Linked DNA regions of Homo sapiens: region 2 is linked to region 1. Evidence: fine-mapped expression QTL. Tissue or cell type: whole blood. Region 1 holds a variant in brackets; the other region holds the start of a gene. All regions are shown on one strand. Distances are from middle to middle.

Region 1 (8,107 bases):
GATCGCCCTTTACCATCCCCTGATCTGGATCTGGAGTCAGCCAGTCCTTCCCCATTTTGTTTATAGGCTAATGCAGGGAATGTCTGCAGCTTAAAGCAGGCCTTTGTGGAGGCAGAATGCCCTCACCTAACAGAGGGAGCCTAAGGGTTAGGGTTCTGGGAACCGTGGGAGCTGTGTGGGGGATGCAAGACAGCCTGGTGGCATCCGTGAATCTAATTACGTAGTCTACCTGGTGCAAGAGAAGAGTCTCTGGAGTTAGACTGGCTTCATTTCTACTGACAAGCTGTGCAACCCTGAGCAGGTTACTTAACCTCTCTGTGTTTGGTTTTCTGTTCTATAAATTGGGGCTATTTATAGTACATAGCCCAGAAGGCTGGTATAAGGATCAACTACCATATAAACAATTAACCCAGTCCCGAATACATTGTAAGTGCTTAATTAATATAGGATAAATAAAAAGTAAAACATCATTATACTTTTATGTTCAGTAACAGCCCTCTGGGGCTGACCTTGGGCTGGCAAGGATCATGCCATCTTATTTCTCATCTTGTTTTGCTACAACTTCTTTTTTTTTTTTTGGAGTCAGAGTCTCTCTTTTGCCCAGGCTGGAGTGCAGTGGCACGATCTAGGCTCACTGCAACTTCTGCCTCCCGAGTTCAAGCAATTCTCCTGCCTCAGCCTCCCGAGTAGCTAGGATTGCAGGCATGCACCACCATGCCCAGCTAATTTTTGTATTTTTAGTAGAGATGGCTGGTCTTGAACTTCTGACCTCAGGTGATCCACCCGCCTCAGCCTCCCAAAGTGCTGGGATTACAGGCGTGAGCCACTGCACCCAGCTCACAATTTCTTAAACCCTGGTTTCTCTTATCCTGTAACCCCCAATCCCAGCCTTCCCACCCTCACTTTCTCAGTCTTATCCAAAGGAAACCAAGGAGCCATGACTCAATTGTGGCAGGAAAGAGCTGCCACAGAGGCCTGCTGGGCAGATGGCTCCCCTCACCTACCTCCCGTATTTGACTTCGTATTTGCCCACCTTCCCAGCATAACCCACAGGCTCCAAATCAGGAGTGTGGGATGTGTGTGCTCACTAGCAACAGCTCCTTCCAGAATCTCCTCCCTCATGTGAAACTGGATGCTTCTACTACAAAAATATAAACCAGGAGTCTCCATGAAGCTACGTATGGCTAACATGCTTCCTTTCATGGCCAGAATATTTTCCCAGAAAGCACATTTTACTTCTGAAACACAACCTAGAAGCCAGTGGCTGCCCCTGTGGTTTTTCAATAGTTTAAAGCAATATTGGACACCACCAAGTGTCTCCTTTTTTTCCCAGAGAACTGAGTTACAAAATACTGGTTTCTATTAGGGTGTGTCTAGCACTTTCTGTGCTGCCAAGCCTTCCATTTTTACAGTATGCACACTGGTAGATTTTCCATGAACAGGCTCAAATTTATTCCCAGGCAATGATGCTTAGGAAACCCAATATGAACGTGAAGATTGTTCTAAAGCAGACTCAGAATTTGTCCCATGCCATTGCCTAAAAAGAACATTTCTGATATGTAATAAAATAAAATTTTTCTAGCATACCTTTATATATATATATATATATATATGGGAAGGGGGAGGATATTTGCTCTCCTGATATGATTTTTTGGATTGGATTTTTAGAGGAAACTTGTCTTTTAAATTCTTCTTCTCTATCCTTTTATTTCTATATTTGTATAGAATACAGCCCAAACATCCACCTACATAGGCATTTTACATAAAGAGTTGGAAGCCAAGTGACTGAAAAACAAAACAAAGTTATTTATGTAGTGTCTTTATAGAGATTTACATGTGAATTCGAATGGGAGCCAAGGGTAATGCTGAAGGGAAATGAACCAGTTAGGGAACTATGCTAATAGAAAGTGTGACTAAAATTTAGCTTTGTTGACAAATAAAAAGGCAAGTGCTGTATTTTTTATGAGAAAAATAACATAGGAAATAGAGCTTTCCATGTATATATTCATATACACTCAGTCTTCACCTTAAGAAGCCTTCCCACTAGAATTCCAAATCACATTGCCCTATGCTCCAAATCCTGCACCAATTACTGCTGGTGCTGCCCAGTTTTACAGATCCAGTTTGAGGTGGGTTTTCTCTCCCCAATATGGCTACAAACCTCTGGAAGGCAGGAGCACATCTAAATGCATTTCTGTATACTATCACAGCACCTGGCACCACTCTGAACACAAAACAGCTGATCAGCCAGCATCTACTGGACTGTGTGGATTGAACAGTTGGATTCAGAGCTATGAGGTCTAGAATGGCCACTTTAATCTGGCAACCGAAACTGCCCCAAAGAGGTCTAGACAAAGTTTGCAGTTCAACAACTATCCCCTGAATTCTGCTGGTAGACAGGCCTGCCATCCCTAGTAAACAGTCCTAAAGATCTGTGGAGGCCACCTGTGGTGACCACTGCCATGTGCTGCACGGACTCCCCTTCAGGAACAAAGGACTTCCTCCACAAGTGGCTGGTAGTGCTACCTGCAGAAGCCCTCAGCTGGAGGGAACAGCCTCACTCAAGGTTATTCCTAGTTCCTTGAAATGACTTGCCTTTAATGACTGCTTATTTTGGGGGTGTAAAGGTATAAAGACCTGGCCTCTCACCCCAACTCAGAATAGTTCTGATGAGCCATTCTAGCTCCAGAGTTCCCATGGGCTCAACTGAGGCTGTTGGGTCTACATGGTAGCTCAGCTTCTCTGCCCAGTCCTGCTCCCTTCCCTTCCCCCTTTTTTCCCTTGCCTTCTACAGTTATTAATTCCAAGAGAAGTCCCAAATAAACCTTGTACATGCTGCTGACCTCCATCTCACAGTCTGCTTCCTAGCAAACCAACCCACAACACCATCCATTCATCCATCCATCCATCCGCCCACCCACCCACCTACCTATTCAGCCAGCAACCTGCCACTATGCTTAGGGGACATGGGTGGCATGGGCTGATACAGATGAAAAAGACCCAGTCCTTGTCCTTAGGAAGCTAACTAACAGTCCAGCACAGGAATAACCATAAAGTATGCAATAGGAAGGGCTGGTGTCAAGGGATATGTGGTTGTGGATATGATGCCAGGTAAGGGAGGTGAGGAGTCTTCATGCACTGGCTTAGGCTGTGGTCATCAGTAGACATACCCTGTCTCCTCATCCAATGTCAAGTCCTGGAGGACAGGGTGAACTGTGTCCTTATCTCTCTTTGCATTTCCCATAATTCCTAACACAGAGTCCCAGACAGTACAGAAATCTTAAAACACTAAAACAAAACAAAACACTGAGGGAAAGCCTTGGCATCCTGTCTACTTTATAGGACAGGTTTCTGGCTGCTGGTCTGGCCTTTTAGGGCAAAGTTCTTAGGAGGTTCCTCAAGATGCTCATTCACTTACTATGTCCATAAAATCCCAGGAACATGAAGAAGCACAAGACAAGGTCCTGACTCCGAAAGCAGCTACAGCTTACTCTGTGGATGAGGCAGAGATCCGTGCAAATTTCAACAAACAGGAACAAGAAATGGGAATATGACTAATAACCAAATGGCACATCATTCCCAGGCTGTCCTTGCCCTTAGCAGGCCAGCCCATTTATCTTCAATCTGTCAGTAGACAAAGATTACTAAACAGCCTCTGCAAGGAACCTAGCAATGAGAATCAACAAACCCTCAAACCTCACAGTGCCTCAAAACTAATGCACCTGAGAAACTTAATGTCAAAGGGGAAAAGAATCTTTACCCCAAACACCACTGCTAAGTGCCTGAAGGAAGAGGCAGCGTCTGTGGGGTGGGGGAGCCTGTCTCCTGCATTTCC[C/T]TGCCTCCAGAGAACGTTACCCAACACAACATGTCACTGTCTCCTTCAACTCTCCCTCTCCTTTCACTGCTTTTGTACAATCTGTCACCAACTTCTGTTGTTGATTTCTCTGAAATGCCATTTGCACCCTCCCTCTTCCATCTTGCCTTAGTGCCACTACCTTCTCTGATGTTGTGGCCATACCCTGGGAGTTGAGGTGCCAAGTCCAGGCAAATCTTGCATCTCTCCATCTCTGCCAGATGTACATTCTGAAAACTCAGCTTTCATTTGGTCACATCTCTGCTCAAGAATCATGGGGGCTCCAGAAGCCCTGCCAAGACCAACTTACTCCCTGTACTCGCTTAGCTTTATCTCCCAGAACTCCCCAGTATGCGCCCTCTACTCTAGCTGCCTTCCTGTTTATTTGTGTCTTTTCTCAAGCTGTATGACTTCTGGAATGTCTTTCCCTTTCACCTGCCACCTCCTCAACAGGATCCTATTGAATCCTATCCATTCCTTCAGTTGGTTCATGTGGACCAAGCTAAGCATGTAGGGGAGGAGAGGGAGAGGAAGGGCAGAGTTAGGGGCCTGGTGTTTTCCCAGTCCTGTTTTTCTCTTGTGGTTCCCCTACCACATTCTGACTCCATCACATGGAAATGCTTTTCTGCAGCACCGACCCAGGCACAAGGGCACCATCAGCTTGATTGCCCTGGACCATCTATTTGTGGGAGGAAGGAGCTTATCTGCCCTCAGCTGGGTAGGCTGTCTTGATCTTCCAAGCCAGAAAGGGGAAAAAACTGACGTCGCTGTTTACTCTCCTGTTGCTTCTTAGGAAAGACTTAACCACTCCCAAGTGAATACACCAAGCTCTAGGATTTCTGAGAGATGGATGGTGGGTTTGCCAAAGGAAAGAGTGCCAAGTTGGGTCTCTGGAAAGAATCCAGTGTTCCATAAACCTTGCCTCTTCCCTAATCATAGAAAGATCCATAAAATGACAGAAAGGCAGAGGAGAATGCAGGCAGCACAATGACATAGAAGCATCATTCTGTGCTTCCTGAAAAACAGAAAATGCAGATGGAGACAAATTTCATCCTCCGCCCCACCCTCCACTGCAGCGTGTTGCTCTATGAGAGATCTGCTCTGCACGCACAAAGTGGGGGGAACTTTGGAAGAGTCTCTTGAAAGTAGTACAGTAAAAAGTGAGTTGTCTTTGTCCTCTGCCAATAGGTGACTAGAAAGGTGACCATGATGGTTCCTGCCACCTTGAAGGGAAAAGGTTTACCAATGGAATGTGGGAGGTGGAGGGCAGGGGATTGCCTCCTCTTCTTCCACTTGAAGCACCATGAAAGAAGAAACGCTTTCATCTCCACATTAGCAGGTGGACTGAGTAAGGGGTTCTGTTTTTTTTATAACTTTCCCTAGAGGCATAGGAGAAGCTGGTGAAAGCAGCAGGTTGGAATATCCCCATCTTCATGCCTTGTGCTGGAAGATGGATGAAGATGAGAAGAGGTAAACTAAAAAGACCTCCTCAAGCACACACACACACACACACACACACACACACACACACACACGTGCACACACCAGAGATAATGAACAAGAGACTGAAAAGGAGAAAATTCAAAACAAATCTCTTTAGGCAGTTATATTAATGTGATAATAACAGCAGCAACATTAATTGTTTTAAACATGCATTTATATTTTAAAACACTAGAGTTCATTATTTAGCAGTATTCTTACAACAAATAATCCAATCAGGTAATAATCAAAATAACAGCTACCATTTACTAAATGATTACCAGGAACACCTCTCGTGTTATTATACTGAATCTTCATAAACCCCTGTGGTACTACTGTTATCCTCATTTTACAGAGTGGGAAACTGAGGTTGGAGATGTTAAATAACTTGCCCATGAGGTGCAGACTGAAACTCAGGTCTGTTCAATTCCAGAGTCCAGCCTTTTACACTTACAATGTCCATCTTATGGCAGGGCTTTTTCATAAATTCAGGAAATGGAAAGGCATGGATGAGGAAGCAGCCCTTATGTCTCAACTCCCTGTGAGGCAGGTACACACACACATATAAGTACTCCAAGAGGTCCCACTCACTCTGCTGTACTTCTCAGTTACACCCATTCAGCTTTCATAGATACAGGTCCATGGATGAATGTCAAGTTTCTTGTAGAGACAAAGGTCAATCTCTAAGGAGAACACACCTGTTATCTAACCTGTATCTGAATCTGCAACAACGGTTTCCATTTGACAGGATGCAGCCCTAGCAAGGTGGTGAATTAACATCCAGCTTTGAAGCACTGTCATACAGGAGAATACTTTAAGATGGAATATAATGCGTGAGACTGACTGCCATTTAGCAGAATGGCTTGTGACATTAAAATACATGTTCAACGTGTGAGATTCAAGCACACGCAGAAAGAAGAAACAACTGCAGAAAACAGTAAGGTGCAAACAAATAGTGACAGCTCACGAGAGCTGTCTGCCCTGTTCTTCATGGGGCCCATCTGACCTTAGTGATGTTTGCTGTCAGCTACGCAGAGGCCTTCTGACACAAACTGACCGTGAATACAACAGGGATATTAAACACTGGGTCAGGCTGGAGAGAGAAAACAACAGGGTGCAGCAGAATTCTTTTCCTTCCCTTTCACCCAAGTACCAGGGATTCTGAAGATTCTCCTCCCTGCCCCCGGCTTCTCTTCCTTCCTCTTTCTCTAAGCCTCCTTATCCTCCTCCCGCTTCTCCCTCAACCCCTTAACTTCAACCAGAAGAAGAGATAGAGGGTTGGGCAGGGGAGCACAGAGAATGTTGTTCTTAGGATTTTGAGAGAGTTAAGCGTCAGGGTCAATGTCCCCTTCCCGCTTGCGCTCTCGAAATAGATACACACAAAACATCTACTGGAACTTTTAAATGATGAGAGGAGATCCACAAGTCACCTGTGAAGCAAAATCTCAGCACTTTATAGTCACAGAAACATACAGGCATGCAAAGGGCTCATGTTTATGAATTATATCATACCTAGGCAAAGCAGGTGGCACTTGCACACACACAGGAATCCTTAAATACACGCATCTTGGCATTTCCTTTCCGCCAGCCTTGGCCCTTCCCACCCACCCAAAGGTGCGGGCCACAGCCACCCTCTGTGGGGTCTGATGCAGGGTGAAGGGCGTCACTGGGTCCTGGCTACTCCCTGGCTGTGAGAAGTGGGCAAGCCCTTTACTCTATGGGAATCTCTGTAAAATGAAAATAACTGCCTGGCCAGGGGCTGTGAGGATGAAAGGGTATTAATAATATACGCAGGGCACTGTCCTGCTTGGTTCCCGAACCTCTCTTTCCTACACCCACGGCTGGACTGATGGTGCCTTCTGTTACTTGGTCCCCACCGTCAGTACTCTAGTGTGACACTGGGAAGAGTGGGGGCTTAGCCAGGGCCGCGGTCTGTACAGGAGGGTCCCAGCCCGCAGGTCACGGGTCTGCAGGCCCACAGCTAACCTTCAGAGCTGCACAAGCGCCGGGAGCTGTGGGCACGTGAGGAGGGCGAGCGGGTCCTAGGTGCGTAGACCCGTGGGTGGGGGGCGGAGCGGACCGGTGGAGGTGGGCAGAGACCGGCGGCAAGTCGACCCACGGCTGTGGGTGGCTTCCTCCTGTTGCTCAGTATCAGGGAGAGGCGGGGGAGGACATTCATTTTTTTTCTTCCCTAAGTAAGCATCCACCTATTGCTTTAATAACTATCGATTGTGAAAAGCCGGCGGGGCCTCTTAAAGGCGAAGTCGGGAGGCGCGCGCCCCTGCGTCTGTGTTCGGGGACCAGTCCGCGGGGACCTTCTGGACCTTCTCCGCCGGCTGCGCGGCAGCGATGGACCCTGTGCATGGGCTCTCCTAGCAGCCTCGGGAACCGCGGCCGCAAGCTGTGGTTTGACCCCTGCCCCAACCACTCGCGAGGCCTTTTCTGTTCAGAGCCCCCAGTCACGTTCTTGGACCCAGTCACCTGCGCCGCAGCGCAGTCCCGGCGCCCCAGGTTCGAGGACCCGGCCCGCGCTCGGAAAGTTATTTCAAAAGGCAGATGTGTTGCAACCCTCTCTGCAGCAAACTACAGTACGCGGATTCCCGAACCCTTCCCCGCCCCCACCCAGCCCGGGCGACCAGAGCCCGCCGCGGGAGACTGGCAGCAAGGAGAGCCACCCCTAAATGCACCTTCCCTCCCTCCCGCGCGCCCAAGTGCAATGGGGTTGGGGGAAGCCCCAAAGCAAACTCACGACGCGGAGCAATCCCCAGTCTTGGC
Region 2 (8,107 bases), 180 kb before region 1:
TTTTTGGAGACAGAGTCTTGCTCTGTCACCCAGGCTGGAGTACAGTGGTGCGATCTTGGCTCACTGCAACCTTCGCCTCCTAGGTTCAAGCAATTCTCCTGCCTCAGCTTCCCAAGTAGTTGGGACTACAGGTGTGCCACCATGCCCGGCTAAATTTTTTGTATTTTTTTTTTTTTGAGGTGGAGTCTTGCTCTGTCGCCCACGCTGGAGTGCAGTGGTGAAATCTCGGCTCACTGCAACCTCCGCCTCCCGGGTCCCAGCAATTCTCCTGCCTCAGCCTCCCGAGTAGCTGGGATTACGGGCGCACGCCACCATGCCCGGCTAATTTCTGTATTTTTTTAGTAGAGTCATAGGTTGGCCAGGCTGGTCTTGATATCCTGACCTTGTGGTCTGTGCACCTTGGCCTCCCAAAGTGCTGTGATTACAGGTGGGAGCCACCGTGCCTGTCCGAATATTTTGTATTTTTAGTAGAGACGGGGTTTCACCATGTTGGCCAGGTTGGTCTGGAACTCCTGAGCTCAGACAATCTGCCCGCCTTGGCCTCCCAAAGTGCTAGAATATAGGCATAAACCACCGCGCCCGGACGACAAAATATTAAATTCTAGGCAGGGCGTGGTGGCTCACACCTGTAATCCCAGCACTTTGAGTGGCTGAGGCGGGCAGATCATGAGGTCAGGAGACCGAGGCCATCCTGGCCAACGTGGTGAAACCACATCTCTACTAAAAATACAAAAAATTAGCCGGGTGTGGTGGCACGCACCTGTAATCCCAGCTACTCGGGAGGCTGAGGCAGGAGAACTGCTTGAACCTGGGAGGCGGAGGTTGCAGTGGGCCGAGATCACACCACTGCACTCCATCCTGGGCAACAGAGCGAGACACCATCTCAAAAAATAATAATAAAATAACAAAATTAAATTCTAAAAGAGTATCCCTTTCTGGCTGGGCGCAGTGGCTCGCGCTTGTAATCCCAGCACTTTGGGAGGCTGAGGTGGGCGGATCACCTGAGGTCAGGAGTTCGAGACCAGCCTGGCCAAAATGGTGAAACTCTGTGTTTACTAAAAATACAAAAATTAGCCGGGCATGGTGGCGGGCGCCTGTAATCCCAGCTACTCGGGAGGCTGAGGCAGGAGAATTGCTTGAACCCAGGGGGAGGAGGCTGCAGTGAACCCAGATTGTGCCACTGCATTCCAGTCTGGGTGATAGAGCGAGACTCTGAAAAAAAAAAAATTAAATGAATAAATGAGTATCCCTTTTAGATAAAGTTTAAATATTTTAAAATGTTCTCAATATATTAAAAAATATTCTTGCGAGACAAGCCAACAAATTGAACTTTTTTCTTATGTTCCCATATAGGTATTAAAACAACTTCAGGATTTCAAAAAAACTCATTTATTAGGTGACAAGGAGGTTACAGAGATTAGAGCAGGTATAACCGAAGATAGCTTGTAAGTGTAGCTGTAGCTGGTGGGCCGGTTGAGGTTCTGGACTTCGCGGTGCAAAATAATTTTGAAGTCCAAAGTAAAAGCAAGCAAAAGAGTTTATTGCAAAGCGAAAGTACACCCTCACAGCTGATCAGAGCGGGCTGCTCAAAGGTGAGACAGCATGCACTGACACTGGGGAAACTCCCTTTGTAGGAGTCTCACAGGATCATTCATGAAGCGGGGAGAACGGGTGCTGCTATTAAGCACGTTCTCTGGTTTTCTGTCGCCATGTGCGCTGTGGTTGTATATGCTAGTACATACACTGCATGTCTTATTAGTATCTTAAATCTTCACCCAGGAGTGGTGTTTTTTTTTTTTTTTTTTTTTTACTATTATAATGAGTATAATTCAGCCCAACGACACTGATCATGGGTTTCTGCGCTTGTGAGAGTTTGGGGATTTTCCCTTCTGCTCTCGTACCTCTTTGCTGCAAAATTTTCTAACCAGGAGCCTCGGATGTGGTTTGTACACTATGGGCTGGTTTGTTCTATTTATTTAGCAAGTTTGTTCCCCTTGAAGGGAGGCTATCACCACCTACCTAACCTACCTCCTAGAAACACACTAGGAGTACTGAGAGCAAATTGCATTAATCTCTGAAAACGCACGTATTTATGCCCTAAACCTACTACCTTAGAAAATTCTAGAAAACACAAGGATACTCCAGGATACATTTTACCAGCTAGTCAATCGTCATCTAGCCGCTTGAAAACTCTGTACATTTCCAACAGAATGAGGGTAAAAACGGCAAATAACACGTAAGAAACGTTATCAATGTTGTTTTGACTTTGTGAATTCCCTAGAAGGGTCTCAGCGACCCTGAGGTCACCAGACCACATTTCGAGAGCCATTGTACCAGACTCTGTTCTAGATAAAAGACGGAGCAATCGGAATGAATAAAATACTCTCTCTATGGGGAGCTGTTTACGTAGTGGCAACTGCGACCTGTTCTAAAGTGGAACAGAACCGAGCGCTGTGAGAGGGTGGGACTTGGAGACCTATCCTTGCCCGCCGGGCCAGGGGAGTGGGCTCTAGAAGGATGACCTTTCAACTGCGACCTGCTGAGGAGGAGTCGGCAAGGGTGGCCGCCGACCAGTTCTCTTTCCCGCCCACCTCCCCAAATCCCAGGAGAAGAGGGGCGGACGGGAAGCGACAGTGGCCGCGAGTCCCCGGCACGCGACGGGCTCTCAACCTGGCACGCCGAATCCTCAGGACAGCCCCGCTATCACGCAACTACTCGGGTGTCCCAAGAGTCGCCAGGGCCGGAGCCGCGCGCGGCGCCGGGGACCCGCGTGAAACCGCCTGTGGGAAGCGGGCGGGTGGCGCGCGCTCCGGGGACAGTGAGAGGCGGCGGACGGCGCGGGGACGTCCCGAAAAAGGCGCAGCCAGGAAGACGCAACTCCTGACGCGGTCTCGGGCTACGCGGAGGCGGCTAGTGGGAAAGGGGGACTCTGGGAGACAGTGCCTAACAGGGCCAGGCCCCCGACGGCTTCCTCAGGAGGACTCACGGTTCTGGGGGATTCCGGAACCGCTACCCCGTCGCGAGAAAGGAGGTCTACTTACGCGCGCAATCTCGAGCGAGCGGCCTTTTCCACCCCCGCGGTCTCTTGCGCCCTCTGGTGGCCTCTCGCGAGAACGACGCTGAACTTGTTCAGGTGGGACGCCAATAAAGATTTCTTATTCAAAAAACAGGAAGTGCCTACGGAGGCCGGGCCGGCAGCGGCGGCCGGGCATGAAGCCGGGCGGCTACGGGATCGCGGGCGGCGGCGGCATCGCGGGCGGCGGCGGCGATGAGCGACATAGTGGAGAAGACGCTGACGGCGCTGCCGGGACTCTTTCTGCAGAACCAGCCCGGTGGTGGGCCCGCGGCCGCCAAGGCGTCCTTCTCCTCGAGGCTGGGCAGCCTTGTCCGCGGCATCACAGCCCTCACCTCCAAGCACGTAGGTGCCCGCCGGCCCGGGAGCTCAGGGACATCGGAGTGAGGCCCCCGCGCCAGGAGGCCCTGGCCGGGCGGCGAGACTTCAGGGCCTCTGGGGTTAGCCCTCCGGCGGGGCTCAGGGGCTGCTGTGTCGGTTCGTCCTTTCGTCTGCCTGGAAGCTTCACTTTCCTGCTGGGACTGACAGCAGGGAAGCCGAGTTTCCACAGTTAGTTCTGACACTGACTCTTTGATCGGGGGCACATCTCTGTAACCTCTGAGCCTCCGTGTGTTTTCTCAACGTTGTGGTGGAAAAGTACTGATACATAATTCATAGGTTTTTTGTTTGTTTTGAGGATTGGGTGAGATGTCAAGCGTGTGAAAATACCTAGTGCGATGGAAGTGTCAGACATTATTTACCTTCCACAAAGTTTTTTTTCCCTACTCAGTTTCCTTCTCTCCCCCGGTGCCTTCAACTGAACAACAGTTCAGATGTCGCATACCTGAAGAGATCCTGTGAGCCTCTTGTTGAATATCTTTGGGGAGCTTGAGGTTCTTGGGTTACAACAACGTGTTGGGCAAAGAAAAAGCACAGTTCTCTCAAAATGTAAAATTTGCTAAGTCTCTGCCTCAAGTGGGCTTTGAAAATGAGCAGTTATAAAAATTCTTAAACTTTTAAAATTTTTAAATTTTTATTGACGGAGTCTCTCTCTGTCGCCCAGGCTGGAGTGCAATGGTGCGATCTCGATCTCGGCTCGCTGGAGCCTTAAGGTTTTAAAAATTTTAATTTTTGTTTTTTTTTGAGACGGAGTCTCGCTCTGTCGCGCAGGCTGGAGTGCAGTGGCGCGATCTGGGCTCACTACAAGCTCCGCCTTCCGGGTTCACGCCATTCTCCTGCCTCAGCTTCCCGAGTAGCTGGGACTACAAGTGCCCGCCACTGCCTGGCTAATTTTTTGTACTTTTCGTAGAGACGGGGTTTCACCGTGTTAGCGAGGATGGTCTCGATCTCCTGACCTCGCGATCCGCCCGCCTTGGCGTCCCAAAGTGTTGGGATTACGTGCGTGAGCTACCCTGCCCGGCCTTAAAATTTTTAAATTTTTAATGACGGAGTCTCGCTCTGTCGCCCAGGCTGGAGTGCGATGGTGCGATCTTGGCTCACTGGAGCGTCTGCCTCCCGGGTTCAAGCGATTCTCCTGCCTCAGCCTCCCAAGTAGCTGGGATTATAGGCGTATGCCACTACGCCCGGCTAATTTTTGTATTTTTAGTAGAGACAGGATTTCACCATGTTGGGCAGGCTGGTCTTGAACTGACCTCAAGTGTTCGCTCACTTCGGCCTCCCAAAGTGCTGGGATTACAGGCATGAGCCACCGCGCCGGGCCCCCACAGGCGCTCGATGGTTGCACGGATTGTGTAGTATACCGATTCACAGCTACAAGGAGTTTATATCTTAAAAAGAGCACGTGTTAATGTCATTATTTGTTCAACAGATGTTTATGGAACAAGGTTATGTGTTAGACACAGGAAAATAGAATTAAACACATTCCCTTTTCCCAAGGAATTAGTCATTCGTTTTGGGCTTAAGACAAGTATAAGCATGACTACAATGCAATAGAAGTGCTAAAAGAGAAGGAAAGACAGAAAAGAAAGTGCTCTGAAGGTTTAAAAAAAATATTTTTTTGGCAGCTCTAATAAGTTGATGCTATCCGGAGAGAACCTGCTTCACATTCCAGAATCATTACTTGTGGGCTTGTCTTGTTTTGTTTTGTTTTTGAGATGGAGTCTCACTCTGTCGCCCAGGCTGGAATGCAGTGGTGCAATCTTGGCTCACTGCAACTTCTGCTTCCTGGGTTCAAGTGATTCTTCTGCCTCAGCCTCCCTGGTAGCTGGGATTACAGGCACACGTCACCATACCCGGCTAATTTTTATATTTTTAGTAGAGACAGGGTTTCGCCATGTTGGCCAGGCTGGTCTTGAACTCCTGACCTCAGGTAATCCACCTGCCTTGGCCTTGGCCTCCCAAAGTGCTGGGATTACAGGCGTGAGCCACCACGCCTGGCCATTTGTGGCCTTAATAATGTTGTTTTTCTTAAGGTTTTTGTCCTTTGCTAATTTTTAAGGGATCCTCAATAAAATTTTTTAAAAAGTTATTTTTGGTCTTAAATAGCAGTTTGAAACTGTAGATAGGCATCCACGTGTATCAGTACGTCACTAGTGGCTTTTGAATAGCCATCTGATGAACATGTAATTCAGTGTGTAATTTAAAGGTAGCATGATATTAGCCAAAAAAAAATGGGGCCAATTTTTTAAGTGCTTAGGGAGATAACATACAATGCAGACAGTAGGAGTGACCACATTGGTATGTGTCTGAGATAGGAAGTTATGGAAAGGATTTGGGGAATGAGGAAAAGACAGGGAAGAAGAATGTAGTTTAAGGGAAAAAGACCTATTTCTGTTTCTGCTTTCTTACCCTGTTTCTTAATTCCATGAAGACTTTTTACTTCTAAGGGGAAGATGTGAGATGAGACTCTTTTCTTGGGCCAATACATGGAGAATTTCTACTCTCTCTCCACCTTTAATTTTTTTTTTTTTTTTTTTTTTAGATGGAGTCTTGCTCTGTTACCCAGGCTGGAGTGCAGTGGTACGATCTCGGCTCACTGCAACATTCACTTCCCGGGTTCAAGCGATTCTCCTGCCCCTGCCTCAGCCTCTCGAGTATCTGGGATTACAGGACCCCCAGCTAATGTTTGTATTTTTAGTAGGGACGGGGTTTTGCCATGTTGGCCAGGCTGGTCTCAAACTGCTGACCTCAAGTGATTCACTCGCCTTGGCCTCCCAAAGTGCTGGGATTACAGGCATGAGCTGTTGTGCCCGGCTTCCACCTTTAGTTTTAAAAAAAAACATTTTCTGCTATTCTACCATTAAGGGGAAGTAACTGAGTAAAGAAAAGAGGAAGGATGGGTTAGCCTGGAAATATTTATTCTCTCCAGGGATGGTTCTGAGGTTTGGAGAAATGCCTTTAGATAGATCGTAAGCAGATAGTATTTGTAACTCTCCTTTAAAATAATGTTTCTTTTAAATTAAAAGTATTGTAAATTATATTTTTCCGTTTAGATAAATGCTGTTACAGTTTTAAAAGACAGTTAATCAAGCATTTAAATATTTTCACTTTCTCAGGAAGAAGAAAAATTAATCCAGCAGGAACTGAGTAGTCTGAAAGCGACTGTTTCTGCTCCTACTACAACACTGGTAGGTTTGCATAGTCAGTGCCAACACATTTGAATTTGAAATCTAGTCACTGTGGACTCAATAGTGGCATCTAACTGATGATCGGTTGCTAAAATTTGATTTATCATAGTCAAAATGAATTATAGTTGGTAGCAACTCAGATGTTAACTTTAGCCTTTTATTGTTGACTGGTTTGCACCAGAACAAGATTTGCCTATGTGAAGTCAGGGCTAATGTGATGATGATTACATAAATGTGGAGATACTCTTGGGACCCTAGTGCTGATCTGATGTTTTTAATGTTATGCATTTGGAAAAGGTTGGGATTTCAACATGATATTTTCAGACCTGAATTAATATATTGTAGGTATATCTAATTTTATTATTTAAGACCTAGTTGTTTTTAAAGTTTGTTCTACATAATCTGATTTTTCAAACAATATTCAGCAACTATTTAATGAATGGTCATTCATTATTATGCAGGCCACTGTGGGGCTGTCCCAGCATAGCTAGATTAAAACTCAGTTTGATTTTTTTTTTTTTTTTTTGAGACGGAGTCTCGCTCTGTTGCCCAAGCTGGAGTGCAGTGGCGTGGCGTGATCTCAGCTCACTGCAACCTCTGCCTCCTGGATTCAACCGATTCTCCTGCCTCAGCCTCCTGAGTAACTGGGACTACAGGTGCCCGCCACCATGCCTGGCTAATTTTTGTATTTTTAGTAGAGTTGGGGTTTTCATCATGTTGACCAGGCTAGTATCGCACTCCTGACCTCAAGCGATCCACCCACCTCAGCCTCCTAAATCAAAGTACTAGGATTACAGGTGTGAGCCACCGTGCCTGGCCTGATTTTTTTTTAAATGAGATTTTGTTTCAAGCAACATATCTTCAGCAAATATTTGGTGAGTGTCTTCAGTATATAAGCCACTGTGGGAATGTTTTCCCTCCCTGCCAGTAAAAATATCAGGACGATCATTTTGCATAAGCACATGATTGTGAATTTGAATAACACTTGTAAAGTCTGAGAGAATGAATATATTTTCTTCTGTGGTCATAATAATAGTATGTGGCAAATAAAACTGAAAACATAATCTGATATATCCATGTGTATATATGTATATGTATGTTTGTGTGTATACATGTATGTGTGTCTGTGGCTATGGATAAAATAATTATGCTTCATAGTACTAGATAGAAACGTTAAACAGAAATGGTTTTTGTTTGTTAGATTTCCATTTTTTATGATTGGCATCAGTATATAATTTTCCTTGTTCCAAGGCAGAAACCTGAAGTTGGGCAGAACTAAGATAAATAGGTAGAAATTAGGAAGGCAGAGTTTGAAAGGAAGGTTTTATAACACTATGGCCATCCAACTCTGTGTATATCTTACAGAGTAGTCTGTCCCAGAGCTGTTCATGTAAAGGTTGGCTGTCAGAGAAATTGTAAAGAGAATTCTTGCATTGGGGAATGCACTTTCATCTCTAAAAATAAATGC

The links. PIP is the estimated chance that this variant, and not a neighbour inherited with it, causes the effect.
Region 2: it holds the start of AP4E1, and the variant in region 1 is fine-mapped to the expression of AP4E1 in whole blood (TOPMed, PIP above 0.99).

The regions. Positions count from the first base shown.
Region 1 is chr15:51,086,330-51,094,436 of GRCh38, forward strand. All of the region lies in intron 1 of TNFAIP8L3 (TNF alpha induced protein 8 like 3), which reads right to left. All of the region lies in intron 1 of MIR4713HG (MIR4713 host gene), which reads left to right. Among named protein-coding and RNA genes, the nearest start is that of TNFAIP8L3, 4.5 kb to the right of the region's middle. RefSeq lists an enhancer at 7,599-8,107 and a silencer at 8,052-8,101. The variant C/T (reference allele first, on the strand shown) is at 3,836.
Region 2 is chr15:50,905,511-50,913,617 of GRCh38, forward strand. It overlaps AP4E1 (adaptor related protein complex 4 subunit epsilon 1), which reads left to right and starts at 3,173. Exons shown (of 21, transcript NM_007347.5): 1 at 3,173-3,418; 2 at 6,568-6,639. The coding sequence starts at 3,269. RefSeq lists enhancers at 2,766-3,507, 2,982-3,271, 3,292-3,461, 3,508-4,249.